2 separate regions of the Homo sapiens genome follow, and region 2 is linked to region 1. The links come from fine-mapping of genetic effects on gene expression. Tissue or cell type: cerebral cortex. Region 1 holds a variant in brackets; the other region holds the start of a gene. All regions are shown on one strand. Distances are from middle to middle.

What was found. PIP is the estimated chance that this variant, and not a neighbour inherited with it, causes the effect.
Region 2: LIMCH1 starts here. The variant in region 1 is fine-mapped to the expression of LIMCH1 in cerebral cortex (GTEx, PIP 0.92).

Annotation. Positions count from the first base shown.
Region 1 is chr4:41,632,229-41,640,336 of GRCh38, reverse strand. It overlaps LIMCH1 (LIM and calponin homology domains 1), which reads right to left. Exons shown (of 32, transcript NM_001330672.2): 11 at 7,470-7,588; 12 at 7,252-7,360; 13 at 6,529-6,789; 14 at 1,370-1,405. Among named protein-coding and RNA genes, the nearest start is that of LIMCH1-AS1, 57 kb to the left of the region's middle. The variant C/T (reference allele first, on the strand shown) is at 4,733.
Region 2 is chr4:41,534,781-41,542,888 of GRCh38, reverse strand. It overlaps LIMCH1 (LIM and calponin homology domains 1), which reads right to left and starts at 4,732. Exons shown (of 32, transcript NM_001330672.2): 1 at 4,539-4,732.

The sequences.
Region 1 (8,108 bases):
GATGAAGAAGAAATCCATTCTATCAAAATGTTTTCGCTCACCAAACCAAAGTAGTGTTTTGCCTGTCAATCTTATAAAATCCTCCTTTCAGTGAATGTTAAATATTGCCATTGCAGGTTTGAAAAGTAATAACCAGGGCTCAATTTTACAGACTACTTAACTCTGTGCAGTCAGTCAAGCTCAGGCTGAATTTGGTTTTGAGGCATGAGTGTTCTTTATGTCAGATCACACATGGGAAACTTGGCCCTGGAGTTTGACCACTTAGGGCTCAGAGTCCAAACTAAGCAGACATCTTGAACACAAACATGAAAATAGCACAATCTGAAGACACTTAATTTTTTGCCTAATCTCATTGTCATTGGTGGAAATGATGTTTGCATGTTCTACATGCAAATTCTATTCAAATTCCTCATTGTGTGACTTGAAACTGAGGCTCAGGAAAGGATAGGCAGAGGAGGACTGGTGATTACATTCTGGATGGCCCAGGCTCCCACGAGGCCACAAAATGCTCCTCAATATCAGGATCAGCAGACTACTGATGCTGGATTTAGATATTAATCATGTTTCTTCAAATACAAATTACTTGAATCTGAGAAGTCTAGCATTTTGCAAATAAAAAAAAGTTTGCCTTGAATATCAGTTGCAGAATGATCTGCATATGGGAAATCCATTTCTGAAGCAGAGTTAATGTGGTCACAAATGGGAGGGTTTGGAGTCTTCTCAAATTTGGATGTGGAGTACGGGATAAGGAATGAACCTCTGCTTGGTTGAGTGAAAACCAAGCAGCAGGGAGGGGAAGGGCCAGTCATGTCTTACATCCTTGGCCCCCTGCTAAGCCATGGGACTTGAGCAAAACTCCAATGTTTTGGTCTCAAGCATCCCACAGTTTATGTGACTCCAACCTGGGAGGAACTTGGGCTTCTGAATCTATAATTAGTGGTTTGGGATTTATTTTCTTAGTTAAAAAATGAGACTATGGGAATGACTACCTCATTGTTAACTCTAAGCCCCAACATATCAAGAATTAAGTGCAAAACTCAGAATGCCCTTTAAATAAATCTATAGTTCAGAAGGGGTACCAATGTTCAGACCATAACAAGAACAACGACTTTAACATGCCCAGTCTATGGAAAGCAAATGTTAAGTTTCAAGCAGCAGCTTCATATTAGAATCATGCTTAAGTTGCTTTTTCATTCATCTTTCCTGCACAGAATGTATGCTCTGCATTCCAACTTCAAGTGCTTTGCTGCACAAGTCAGCTAACTATTCAGTTCACTTGCATCAGTTGCATTTCAATTAGTGGTAAGTACTGGAAGCATGCAGTTTAGGCTAGTAATTAATGTAATCCTACAAATACAAGGCAACTTACTCTGCGTCATCAGACACAGGAGTTCTCGGACCGTATCTATAAGATCAAATAAAAAATTAGAGGACTGGCAGAGTTGAAAGTGAACACTGTAAGCAAGCTGGAAATAGAAACTGCCGGTGAAATACATGTGCGCCAAACCTTTTTTGCTGAGATACTGAAAGAGAAATGGCATTATACAATTAGCAATATTCATTGGCTGCTGAAAAATCAAAGACAAGTCTTGATATTTCTAAAAAATGCAAAATTTATCTCAAAACCCAGAAGAGAAATGAAAATAATCCCCACACTACCCAAAAAGAAAGAATCTGTTCAATATAAACACAGAAAGGCTTAGGTGCAATCCACAGCGTTTAGAGAAGGCAGCTTAGAAAACAAACATGTATTACAGTCATTCACAAACAGTTCAACTTTTTGTGCCTTTATGTTCAGCAGTAATGGGCTGTAATGGACACCCACTGTACAAGTGCACCCTTACTGACCCTGTCCCTGAGATGTTAATGCATTTGCACAAATAACATCAAAGAGTGTTTCTGCAGTTTTCTGAAGGGAAACCAGAACTCCAACCAGAACCCCAATCAGTGCCTTCCGCATGCATTTGACAGAAACCACAATTCCTAGAAAACTGGTAGCCTTAATCAAAACCAGACTTGAATGATACTCCATAACTTGAAAAACTAAAGTTTTTTTCTAATCTTTTATATTCTCCTGATAATTTAGATCCATAAAGTTGTACCCTCTGCGATAGTCACCGGAAGTCTAAATGAGTCTAAAGCAAAAAGACTAAATTAGAAAAATATTAGAACATTACAAGCCATATTTCCAGCACATGAAAAAACAACAACAACAACAACAACAACAACAACAAAACAACACAGCTCCCACAAATGCCTGTCTCTTCAGCAAAGGCGAGTTTTAAGGGTCAGTTCTTACCTATACCCTGAAAAGCTCCTCCTTTCTGCAATTCTGATGGTGGACAAAGAATAGTGAAGAAAATACGTCCTGCTTCCAGTTTCCAATAAATTACATTTTGGAGTCGGCAGCAAAAATTACCTGGTCCCATGATCAGTTTCACAATAGTTTATAGGAAAAGGGTAATTTCTAAACATCTCTTCCTGCAATCTTAGAGAAATCTTAGAGAATCTTAGAGAAAACACCCCAGAATGCATGAGTGTACACACACATACCCCCTTCTCTCTTATGCTTTTATCATTCTAGAATAATCTACATTCATTGATAATGATTTAATTCACAGTGAAGGCAACCATACCAATGCAAAACCCCAAATCTCTGTTGAAATGGCCAAAAACAAGACAAGGAAAGGGTTTATGAATGTTTTTCTTCTGGCAGTAAGACTCATTTTCTCCTTCTCCAGAGTATCGTTTCGGAAGGTGCTTAAGTTGAACCTAATATTCTCAATTTTCAAAAACACTACTGCATTGAAGCAGATGACAAGTGGGTTCTTTCACATTGAGAGAGTGGGCTGGGCGTGGTGGCTCATGCTTGTAATCCCAGCACTTTGGGAGGCCAAGGCAGGCAGATTGCTTGAGCTCAGGAGTTCGAGACCAGCCTGGGCAACATGGCAAAGCCTTGTCTCTACCAATCACATAAAAAATTAGCTGGGCATGGTGGTGCACACCTGTGGTCCCAGCTACTCTGGAGGGTGAGGCAGGAGAATCACTTGAACTGGGGAGGCAGAGGTTGCAGTGAGCAGAGATCACGCCACTGTACTCCAGCCTGGGTGACAACAGAGTGAGACTCTGTCTGAAAAGGAAAGGAAAGGAAAAGGAAAAGGAGTGCAAGGGCAATATTAATTCTGAAGACTAGGTAAGTGTTTCCCAGTTAATAAATAGGCCTATTGGAATACATTTATTCAAACACAGTGTTTTCTAAGTTATCTATGGAAGAGAGCAGAGAATTTCTTCCCAATGGATGGTTAATCAAGAATCTATTAATAGTTGCTATGTGTTTTTGTGTTTCAATTTGAATATTTTAATTAACATTTTATTGAAGTTTAAGCTATATACAGAAAGTGCACATACCACACATATACTTCAATGCATTTTCACAAAATGAACATATGCATAGATTAGCGTTGAGTGATTTGTACTACGTAAACAGACTCAAATAGTATGTACTCTTGAGTTTGTCTTCTTTAGCACATTTTGTGAGTTTCAACTATGTTGTTGCATGTAGGATATATCTGAATTTAAGTTGTTTCTACACAAAGTAATTAACAGTATTTCATGGACATCTCTACCAATAAATGTAGATCTATACCAAAATGTAAGCCCCACAGAAGCAGAGATTTTTCTGTTTGGGTTCCCTGAACAGTGGCCAGACTAGTCAATAAGTATTTATTAAATACTTATCAGGTGCTCTAGAAATTGAAGAGAAAAGAATAGCCCAGTTTCCGAAGATAACCTTCATTTATCCCTTTACTATGTACTGGGGGTTTAAGGAATTTCCTCTGAGACTTGTATTAGCTTTAAAAGGGCACCAACTTAAGCAGAATTGCCTTTGCTGGCAAGGGGAAGATAATTAGAGCTGAGGTGTCAAGTGACTTTCCCAATCATCCTACAGGAGATCAAAAAGTAAAGGCAAGTTAGCAAAAAAAAAAAAAAAAAAAAGTAATAAAGCAATCTTTCCAATGCAAAGTACGTGACTCAATAGGTTATGAGGTAAAAATTGGCCACGCAGGTCACAGTTGACAAAAGCATCCTACAAAAAAAAAAAAAAAGTCAATAAAGTTTAATTTTGAGGCCAGGCATGGTGGCTCATGCCTATAATCCCAACACTTGGGAGGCTGAAGTTAGAGGATCACTTGAGGCCAGGAGTTTGAGACCAGCCTGGGCAACATAGTGAGACTCTGCCTCTACAAAATAAAAACAAAAAAATCAGCCAGGTGTAGTGGTGTACGCCTGTGGTCCCAGCTACTTGGGAGGCTGAGGTGGGAGGATTGCTCAAGTCTGGAAGGGATATGCTGCAGTGAACTATGATCACACTAGCTTGGGTGATGGAGTGAGATCCTGTCTCAAAAAAATAAAATAAAGTTTACTTTTGAGGGTAGGGGTAGGTAGAAAGATAAAGGGAATAGCCTATGCACCCATTGCCTGTATTTATGTAACTTTCACTACTAATAAAGCATTTCAGAATCAATAATTTGATAGTTATCTATTTCTATATCATGAACTAGCGTTAGCTTAAAGTGTTTTTACTGCTCATCTAAGATCACCCCCAGCATCCAGCACAGTGCTTTACACATAGTGATTATTACTTGATAAACACTTGTTGATAGGAAATGTGCATACCGACAGTGTTTGCTGGCTCATTCACACAATATGTCACATAGTTCACCTGACCATT[C/T]CTCCCTGTGCTCAGAGTAACTGTCCATTCCCATGTGAAAATAAAGAGGAATCTTTCCAGAATCACAAAGAGTGACAGGCCAGGTGCAGTGGCTCAAACCTGTAATCCCGGGACTTTGGGAGATCAAGGCAGGTGGATCACTTGAGGTCAGGAGTTCCAGACCAGCCTGGCCAACACAGCGAAACCCCGTCTCTACTAAAAATACAAAAATTAGCTGGGCGTGGTGGAGGGCGCATATAATCCCAGCTATTCAGGAGGCTGAGGCATAAGAATCGCTTGAATGGGCAGAGGTTTCAGTGAGCTGAGATCGGGCCCTGCACTCCAGTCTGGGCAACAAAGCAAGACTCCATCTCAAAAAAAAAAAAAAAGTGACAGAGAATTCCTCAGGCTTCCACAGTCTCCTCTAGTTACTCGTGTAGGCATCATGCTGGAGAGGGATGCTGGTTTTCCACTCTGACAGAGCTGAGTTTGGATCTTGGCTCTGTAGGTACCAGCTGTGTACATGTGGACCTCAGTTTCCTAACTGCAAAATGCAGATGAAAATTCTTCCTCTCAAAGGTAGTGTAAGGAATAAATGAATGGGAGAGCGCCTAAATGTATCCAGTAGGCAGTCTCTAGGCCTCACCTCCTTCTTTCCTTTCATTCTAACTTGCTTTACAGAAGCCCGCGGATCCAGGGTCAAGTCCAGGGCATCTGGAAAGTGAGTAACTGTGGAGGACCCACTTCACCACTCTGTTCCTCTGTCTTCCCAGTCCTAACCAGCTCGGGAATCATGTGTGATCCACTCACGCAGCTTTTCTCTACATCAGCCTTCTTATTTGTGAAATGGAGCTAACATAGATTCCTTCAACCTACCTGTGAATTCCCAGGACAAGGTGAGCTTGAGGGAGCAGACACACAGGAAACGCTACAAAGCACTCTGTGGTTGTAAAGCACAAATATTACTTCTGCTCCCTGAAAACAGTGCTAGGCTCCATTACTGTTTTATTCAGAAGAATGTAAAATATAGATTAAATTCAGGTGATCAAGATGGCTAGGGTATTGATTTTTTAAAAATCTGGAGAGATTACCTACTGTTCTCCTTGCCTCCCACTCTGCCTTCTCTCCCACTGCCATCAGGGTCCTTGGAGAAGCAGAACTCCATTGCTTCCTATTTTATGGTGAGCTTATAAATTATGCAAAGCCCTCCTCACTTCTTTGCCCTACATTGGTAGGCTTACCATACATTTAACAAAAATGTATCACTTTTATTAAATGGCAAGACAGGCTTCAACATATAGGACCCTAAACTGGAACAGGAACCCCAGGATAATTATTTCCTTAGTCGTCATCAAGTCATGGTTGACTCTAAGTCAAGTCAGAGCATGGAATAGAAATCCTACTGCAGAAGGCAACGAGTGTTTGCTAATGTTGAAAAATTAATATAATTACAACTTTTATAAATGTATTCATCTTCTTTGGACCTGGAATCAAAGTGAAATCAAGTAAGTCAGATAGAAGTTCAACCCCTTTGCCCAAAGGCTCCTATGTGAGCTAGAAAGAAATAAAAGAATTTCCCATTTATTCAGTCCACAAGAGTCAGAAAAAAATGTTTAACAGGTAAATTCACCACTGAATCACACCTGCTTACATGTAAAAAGAGGAAAAATTTCTTCGCAGATGAGGCCAATTTTGATCATTCTGTTTCTGCTAGCAACAGCAGGTAAGCGGCACTGAGGTGCCATAATGCATTAAGAACACACTGAAAGCTCAGACTGGAGAAACAAAGTCACAAGGGCACAGAATAACTTTCTGACCTCTGATCTTTCATGGGTAGACCTTTAGAAGATTCTTCCACATCCTGTTGCTTTGCAAATGGAACTGGAAGGAACTGGTTTGGGTTGGATCCAGTGTGTCTAAGGGACATCCCAGTTCTCCTGGCCATCATGTCATCTTTTCGTGAATCATCCAACTTTCGCTGGCCTTTCAGTCCACTGCCACTCCAGGCAGGAGCTGTCATCTTCTCCAACTTCTCTTCTGTCCCTGAAGCCTCACACTCAGAGGCCAGAGGACACACCCTAGGGCAACATTCAGTCCAGCCAGTCAAAGGCCACTTACTGCTAAAGATATTTTCAGTAGTGTCACTCACTGGCGTTAATTCAAGACAGAAGAAGCCAGCATCCCTGGAGGCAGCGGCACACAGAGCAGCTGAGCAGGAAATCTCCCTTTTGAGTACTGGGACCCTCTGTCATGCAGCTGATACTCACACAGGAATGGGGGTCCCTTTCTGGTTTTCATGAGTCCTGAGAATGAAATTTGGCCAGTACTCAGCCACATGCAAAGGCTAAAATATCTACCCAGAGCGGGCACCAGAAGCAGAACTCTGATCTTGGGATGAGCACACTCTTTTAGTGACTTTACTCCACGCTCTATCAGTCGCCAGGTGCAGACTGTGACTTTAAGCTGTTTTTTTGGGAACACGACAGCCACACACAGCAGGGGCAACACACCACGGAGCAGAGCGCAGGCAAGATGCTCACAGTGGCTGGCTGCTGTCCTCTGATCTTTCTGCCTTTGACAGCCTCTCAGAATCTCTTGGAGCGCTTTCTGTTTCTTCTTTGCCATCCTGTGGCAGCTGTTTGGATGTAACTAAAGCCAGAGAGGACAGTTTCACTCCTAGGAAAGAATTCACACCAGAGGCTCTGACCCCACCTGTCCTCCTTCACCTCCCGGGAAGGCAGGAAACACTGCTCCTCACCTTCCTCTGTCCCCCTCGGGCACTCGCCCAAACTGCAGACCCACTCTTCCTGAGACTCCGGCACAGGAGCCAGCCACGAGGCCCTTCTGCAATAGTCACCTCGGCCACAATTCATTGTTCTGCAGACGATCAAGTAGCATTGGTGGCAAGAGAGGAGAGGAACATGGGTTACGAAAGAAGACAGTGAAAGTCCTTGGGACTGAAAGATTAAGAGAAGAATGTGGCTGCTCTCATTCCAAAGGCTGGTTAGTAAGGATGATATAATCAGATTGAGATAATGGAATGTGAACTCTGGCTAGGGCCTATGAAGGTCAAACAAGGCTGTGTGACTCTGTCACCACAAGACTGAATGATGGGCCTCTCAGGATTCAAGGCCTCGAGGACGTATTTCTTATTAATTTCCTACCCCCTCCTCCCCACCCCAGATCCCCACCATCCTCTGAAACCTCAACTCTTTATTTCTGGTGTTTATAGCCTTCTCTCTTCTATGGTGTCACCCCGAGTCTGGAACCAAAGAAACCCTTCTATAGGTCATAGGCCATCCATCATTTCCTTTGGATTTCAAGGGCAAGGTATAAAGAAGAATGCTATGAACACTTCTTCCTGCTACGGAGAGCCTCACTTTGCTCCTGCTGTACA
Region 2 (8,108 bases), 97 kb after region 1:
ATTTTTTCAGTTCTTATTTTCAATTTATTGGCGTTGACTCATATGAGCCCTATATAGCAAGTTGTTCTCTCTTACTGTAGATACCTGCACTTACATACATATAAGACCATCCTCTGACTTCAGGAAATACTGAGGTCAGGTTCCCTGGCAGTAGGGAAGCTGCTATGATGGGATGGATTTCTGGAAACAATTGAAATATCAACGTGGAATAAACTTTATAAATACTTATCTTAAGGGAGTGTTGGCAGAAGCAAGGAAAATGGGTCAACTTCAGGAAATAGCACAGCCTATTTAAAGGCAAAAAAATCAAGAAACAAAAGGGAGTTCAGTTGCTGGTAAATCAGTTTTCTCTTTCTAACAAGTTTATTTATATGCATTTTTCTCTTCTTCCTATAAGGAAGGTATTTTTTCCTTCCTTTAAGTTTTTACTGTTAAATTCACACATTCACATTTTTTTAGTCCTTAATTACCCTGACTGAGTAATTTGAGAGCAGAAACCTCTGGCCATCAGGAAAAAAAAAAAGAAAAGAAAGAAAGAGAGAAAAACACATGTCCAAAAATTCCCTAAGCTTTTCCATATTCCTAAAAGCAAAATGTAACACTAGCAGTGTAAATAAAATCAATACACTGAGAACTCCTAAGGCTGGTTCTCAATGGAACCAGCCATTCCATTCTTGGAATGAAAACCTGAAACGGAAACGAGGAAGATGAAATGAGATTCTACCTAAAAAGACTCCAACAGATTGAGGGCTAGTGTGAAAATCCCAGGATGTGTAATGAGGGGAGGGGAGTAAGCTCTATGGTCAGAGCTCCCATCCAGCCCAGAGTGGCCCAGCAGAAGTCAGGCAAACACAGACGCAGTCCACATCGCTGCTCTACCACAAGCATGGCTGAGTTCGGCTTTTCAGATGTCGGACCTGGGGTGGGCCCTAGGAGGGGCTCAGAAACCAGAGCGACTTTTCAAGTTGTGTCCTTTATGGTATTTGCAGGGAAAGGGCCAACAATAGCCAAGGGGCTGTTTACCAAAGTCATTCTCCAGCACCTCCCACAGAAACGCTTGTGGAAATCACTGCCAAAGCTTACATGGGAATCAAACAGAAGGAACTGAGCACAGCCATGTAAAACATGCCCCAGTCATTTCGTAAGCTCTGTTTCTTCACAGATGGCTGCTGTGGAAGAAATGACTGCTTACAGAAAGCAGAGATCCAAAAATTAATCCAGCCACTGGGATGAAAGCAGGATGAAAAATGATCCTGTTCTATAATTCACATTGGTGATTTACCAGGTCTGGGCTATAAGACATCTAGGGATAAAACTGCTACTCAAAAGCAGATCTGGCAAAGGTGAGGAAACGGTGTGAAGGGCAGGTACTGCTGAAGATCTCTAGAGTCAAAAAAGGATTCACCAAATTAAAATAGAATGTTTCACAGACCAGTAAAGCCAGATGGGAGTTGGTAGCTCATACATATCCTTGTATTTCCAAGAGATGGGAGACTCCAGACTCTGAAAGGGACCAAACACAAGCTCACCTGCTGCGGCAGTACCCAGAGCTGAAAAGAGAGGATGCCAAAGGAATCCAGCCTTCCCGAATCTACACTCTCAAGGCTGGGCTTTGGGACTCTAAGGGTCTAATAAGCTATGGCTCTTATTTTATATCATTACAACAACTGCTTTGGTTCCTTCATTCTTTCACTACTTACCTGTGCTTCTTTACATTTCACAGGTTGATGATACATTACTGCTTTGGATTTCCCTTCAGTTTCATGGTTCAATCCAATGCCCACGTCTACATTTCTTTCACTGCCTTTATACTGCTGTACAGTTAGACTTCATCTGCTACTCCACACACACACAAATCTCTCCCTACTTCCTCACTCCTCATTTCCTGTTGGGAGCTAAGTTTAAAGCTTCATCCTTCTAGATCTACTCAACATTCCTTTTTAAAAGGTAGAGAACAAGGAACGTAGCAGCTGTGTTCGCTGAGCCATTGAATTCACACTGCCCAGCAGCCCTTGAAAGTCAACTGCAGCGTCCATCAGGGCAAGGACTGACAGTTTGTTTCAACACTGAATATGGTTAGTACCTGGCAAGGAGCAGGAGTTCAATAACTCTTGGCAATAATTCGTCATCATTTTCCCCCTGAAATCCATTTTATTATTCTTTTTTTTTCTTTTCAGGCTAGAGTGCAGTGGTGCGATCTCAGCTCACTGTAACCTCCACCTCCCGGGTTCAAGCGATTCTCCTGCCTCAGCCTCCTGAATAGCTGGGATTACAGGTGCCCATCACCACACCCGGCTAACTTTTGTATTTTTAGTAGAGATAGAGTTTCGCCACGTTGGCCAGGCTGGTCTCGAACGCCTGATCTCAGGTGATCCACCTGCCTCAGCCTCCCAAAGTGCTAGGATTACAGGCGTAAGCCACTGCATCTGGCCCGTTTTATTCTTTTATTCTCAAATTATTCTCTCTACAGGACAAGAGAAGGTTTAAAAATCACTGAATCATGATTTTAGGGAAATATTCAACCTAAAAGGCAGGGCCAAAATCTCAAAGGGTCCCAAATTTATCCCAACAGCCAAAGTTCCTCCTCCTCCTCTTTCTCCTTCTTTTCCTACTCCTGTTTTTCTTCTTCTTCATATCTTGAACCACATGACAAGAAAAAAAAATCTAGACTCTTTACCTATATTAATTAATTTACTCTTCATGAAAACCACATAAGGTAGTTACTATATTATGTCCATTTTTACAGACGAGGAAACAAACGATTGTGTTGCCTGCCAAAGATCAGCACACAACTGAGAAGCTGCAAATCCAGGATTTGAACTCAGGCCATCTCACTCTAGAATGTCAGCTCCTAGCTGCCCTGCATACTATGTCCTGAAGGAGAGCTCTTAAGAAGGCCAACTGAAGCCTATGGGGAACAGTATCCTGGTCATTCATTTCCCAAATTGTTATTGAGTGTCTACTATATACCAGGTGCAGGGAATACCCCCAACAGCCATGGTCACTGTTCCTGTCTAGTCAACATTCCTGTTGCTTTCCTAATTGCCATTTGTTATAGCTCCCAGAGAGTAAGCATGCTGAATCCATTAGAAAAGGAAACTCAAGAGTGAGTTCTTCTTCCATATCTTTATCCTTTAAACTTTATTATAGAGAACAATTGCCACTCCTCTCAGCATTAGTTGGGACTCCAGCAAGAACCAGCTAGGACTATGTATCAGCCTGGAATGCATAGTTACAGAACTAAATGGAAATGGGAAAATGAATACAACGGTGTTAGGAAGTCCCTCTCTGCCCGATGATTAGATTGAGGAGATGTATTGGCAGCTGTAAGGAGGGTGGCTTATTCTTGCCCCTTCTTCCCTTGGGAAGGTCTTCAAAATTGGAGGAGTTATGGCTGCCCAGTCACCTTCTAGTCACCTTACAGAGAGAGCAGGAGAGCAGAGTGGCACATACCCTCAGGCAGGATTCCTGAGTCAAAGGCTGGCTGCTGACACTTGCAGCCTCTCGGTTTTATTTGACCTTCACCTTGTGCGGAACCCACCCGCGCAGCACAGGACAAACCCCTTCTCCCGGGACTGCTGAATCAGCCACTCTGGGAGTGGCAGGAGAGAAGTTTCAGACTCCTGAGACATTTGGTCTATTCAGCACCATGAAGAAAACGGCTGTAGCTCAGTGAGAGAATCACAATCAGGAGCTGGCTGAATAAAGGTGATAAAAATAGATTTCCCGACTCCACAAAGATGAATCATTTTGCCATAGGGATTCGCCAGGCTCTGTTTCAACCTGATTTTCAACCCAGCCTCATAAATTTGGCTAAGGAAAATTTTCTTCCCCTAGATAACCAGTGCCATGGAACGTTTAGCATTCAGACGGGTCTGACGGGATTTTATGAGACAATTGTCCAGAAATAACCCCCATTCCTTTCCCGGCCTGCAGTAAATAGTGACTATGAAGGACAAGGACTAAGTGGGCAAGGCTGGAGATGCAGCCCTTCCCTCCAGACTCCTCCCTGCCTCCCCAATGTCTTCCTTGCTTCTTTTCCTCCTCATTTTAAGAAATGGAAGTTTTTAAAAAGCAAAGGGGGCTGTGGAGTCAGGAGCAGAATGTGACAGGGGCTCAGGTGAAGCAGCCCCACCATGAATGCAGCCACATCTCCCCCACAACACCATGTGCTGCTGGACCACATCTTAAAAATGCAGCCAAGTTGCTTCTCATTCTCAAAATTCTCAAAAATCCTTTTTATTTTGACTAAACTAATGGAGTTATGTGTCTTGTACCACATACCGGAAAATAAAAAACAATGCTTTCCTTAGGGAATTAAAAAAAAAAAAAAGCTTAATTAAAAGCAACAGGTGCTAACAGTTATCAAAGGACAAGATGAATCCACAGGAAAGTAATTTTCATATTATTTTCGCCATACTAATAAGTGAATAAAAAGTCACTTTTTTTTAAACCAAGTATTAAAGTCTAAATAGCTTCCTTCTTTCCATCATGGATACCCCTAAGCATGTATTTCTTTTATAATGAATTTTACTTACCCCCACACGTCCTCATGCTCCGCAATGAACTCCAGCCAACCCACTCTGGGAGATGGGAGGGGCATCTCTCCTGTGTGCTCCTCGTCAGCCCCAGCACAGCAGCCGAAATGCCCTTACATTTCCTTTCCCAAAACAGTCGTCACCACTGCCAACCCCTGCTCTGTCCACAAGCAGGCTGCTGCGGCTGAAATGCTGATGCAGTGAAAGGGAACTGGAAGACAGCTGATTGCCACACCTATTGGAGAGGGAGGCGGAGAAGCCCATTCCCTCTGAGGAAAAGGAATGGCATCTTCAGAAGTAGAGATGCCAGGATTGGAATTGTGCAGAGAGCTTTGTGTCAGCCACTAGCACACAGTAGGTTTGCAGTACTGTCAGGAAATCTGGATCTAGAAAAAGCACCCAAGTGGGACCCGAGGAACAAAGACTCACTCCAGTCCCAACTCTGGAACAAAGTTGCTGCCTGACTCCAGGCAAGTCACTGCCTTCTGGTCTCAGTTTCCTTATTTGTAAAATAACAATGTTTCAAAAAGTAAATCTCTAAGTGGCTTCTAGTTCTGGGATTCTAAGACCATCCTAATGTTCATGAGCATAATAAAAAGTAAACTACCATTTATTGAAAACATCCTGTGTACCATCCATCATATTAGGTATTTTATGTATATCATCTCATTTAATCCCACAATGCTGAGATGGGATTTATCAACCCCATCTTATAGATGAGGAAACTGGCAAACTCACTCCATGAATCCCCATGAAAAAAAAGGATCATCATATTCCTTCAGTGTTTTGAATTTAAATGGAGGCATTCAATCTTTGTGCCTGAAATTGAGATGACATCTGAGAATGGAATTTCTGCACTGCTGGGAGATTAATGTGTTTACAGTCCTCTGCTGGTATAATTCTGAGGTACTAGTATTTATGGTTATGGCTGTTCATGCTACTGCAAAATCCATTTTCCACCTGTTGCTTTTTATTAAACCTCCCTAAAGGACATGAACTATTTCTTTCTGCAGATTCTAAAAGCAGGATGCTGAAATATGTGAGCAGAAGCATCGTGTGCGGAGTTACCATTTGGAATTTTCAAATGCTATAAAACACAATGTTTACAACCAATTCATCATTTATAAAAGTTTATTGGATTAATATGCCAATGGACTCACTGGTATCCTGCCATTTATTGACACAAATACATCAAGTGGTAGGCTGACATTTAATATTTATTAATAACTTCTGTATTTCCTTACCTATTTCATAGTTTCCTTGCATTATGCTCTTTTATCTTTATTGTCATTCATCCTACTTTAAGTGAACTTTTTATTTTAGAATAGTTTTTAGATTTATAGAAAGCTACAAAGATAATATGCAGAGTTTCAGTATAACTCATGTCTTACATCTTACATTCCTATGGTACATCTACATTTATCACAGTTAAGAAATAAACACTGGTACACTACTATTAACTAAATCCATGTTTTATTTGGATTTCATTAGTTTTTCCCTAATATGCTCTTTCTGTTTTAAGATCCCATCTATAATGCCATATAATATTTAATCATTATGTCTCCTTAACTTTTTCTGGACTTTCCTTGTTTCTCAGATATGCCTTGCTTTTGATGGCCTTGACAGTTTTGAAGAATACTGGTCGGGTATTTTGTAGAATATCCTTCCATTTAGGTTTGTCTGATATTCTTTCCATGGCTGGGGATATAGGTTTTTGTGAGGAAAAAGTACCATTCTTTTAACACTGAGGGAAAAGAGGAAAAGTACCATTCCTATATAACATTATATCAATCATCCTATTTTTAATGTTATGTTTAAGTTAAATCAAAAACTTAAACTGAATATAGTTAAATTTTAGAAAGGAAAAATTAGATATCAAACTACTCAGAAATCTAGTATTTTATACTGTGGACAGAGCGACAGAGAGGAATTAATTTTTGTACCATTTGAGATGAAGGTAGACCTAACATTCTAGCAGAAAGCCAGCTAATTACAAGAGAGGCGTCTAGCGAGTTCTTTTGAAATGCTTGCCAAGACAAACTTCCTACAAAAACAATCCAGAGGAAGGCACGTTTTAAGAGAAGTGCTGTTTCAGCCTAGCATGGTCTCATACTTCATACATTTGGTGGTATTTTTTTCCTGTTGTCAAACAACCAAATCCCTATAAACCTGGGTTTGGAATACATGCTAAGAATTAGTTCCACAGAAAGTTATCCTCTAGGTAAGCTATAACTATGGAAAAAAAGGAGTCAGACGTCAGCTGAAATATGTATTTCCTGCTATTATATATTTTTTGCTCACAGTTTGTAATTGAAGGTCTATTCCTAAGGGAAAAAAGTGAGGAACTGATGTAATGTCACAAATTCTGCTAAACGCTGTTCAACGAAAGATAAGGGAGAACAAGTGGTTTCTTTCTTCAAAGAATGGCATTTTTTGTTTTTTCGGGAACAGGAAAGGGAAAAAAAAATGAAGTTGGGGAAAAAAAAGCTTTACAGCACTGCTATATATAACCTTCCACCTCTGCAGAGACACAGAATAATTATGGAAACAAATTTGGAAAAATAGTTTGTGGTGGTGCAGAAAGAGGATATTAGACTTCAGCTAGCAAGTCTAGGCATTCAAAACACACGTGAATAAGAATTTAAGGGCTTAGCTGGCTAACCCACTGTTACGAGCTAAATTGTCTCCTCCTCCCTCCCCCAATTCGTATCTTGAACTCCTAACCCGTTCTAACTCAGAATGTGACTGTAGTGACTGTAAGAAGGTAATTAAGTTATATGAGGTCATCTGAGGGGGCCCTAATCCAATACGACAGTGTCCTTATAAAAAGGCAAAATATGGACACAGATACATACAGGGGAAAGACCACGTGAAGATGCAGGGAAAGGCAGCCATCTGGGAGCCAAGGAGACAGGCCTTAGAACAAACCCACTCTGATCACACCTTGATCTCAGACTTCTAACCTACAGAATTGACAAAATAAATTTCTATTATTTAAGCCATCCAATCTGTGGTACTTTGTTATGGCCATCAGAGCAAATTAATATACTCATCTAGTACTAAGAATGAAATATCAGGGGTATAAGAGAGGCTGCAGGGCACAAGATTGGATGGATATGATATCTCAATGAATTGTCAATTATATGAAGATCTTTCTTTTCTTTTCTTTTTTTTTTTTTTTTTTTTTTGTGACAGGGTCCGACTCCCATCACCCAGGCTGGAGTCCAGTGGCACATTCAAAGCTCACTGCAGGCTTGACTTCCCAGGCCCAGGTGATTCTCCTACCTCAGCCTCCTAAGTAGCTGGGACTACAGGCATGCACAACCATGCCTGGCTAATTTTTTGTATTTTTAGTAAAGACAAGATTTTGCCATGTTGCCTAGGCTGGTCTTGAACTCCTGGGCTCAAGCGATCACCTGCCTTAGGCTCCCAAAGTTCTGGGATTATAGGCATGAGCCACTGCACCGGTCTTTCTGTCATGATTTTCAATTCTAAGTGCAATTGCTAATGACTTTTCCTGTAGTCTCAAACTCCTTTTTTCACTCCTTTCTCCATATCCCAGTCCCTGCC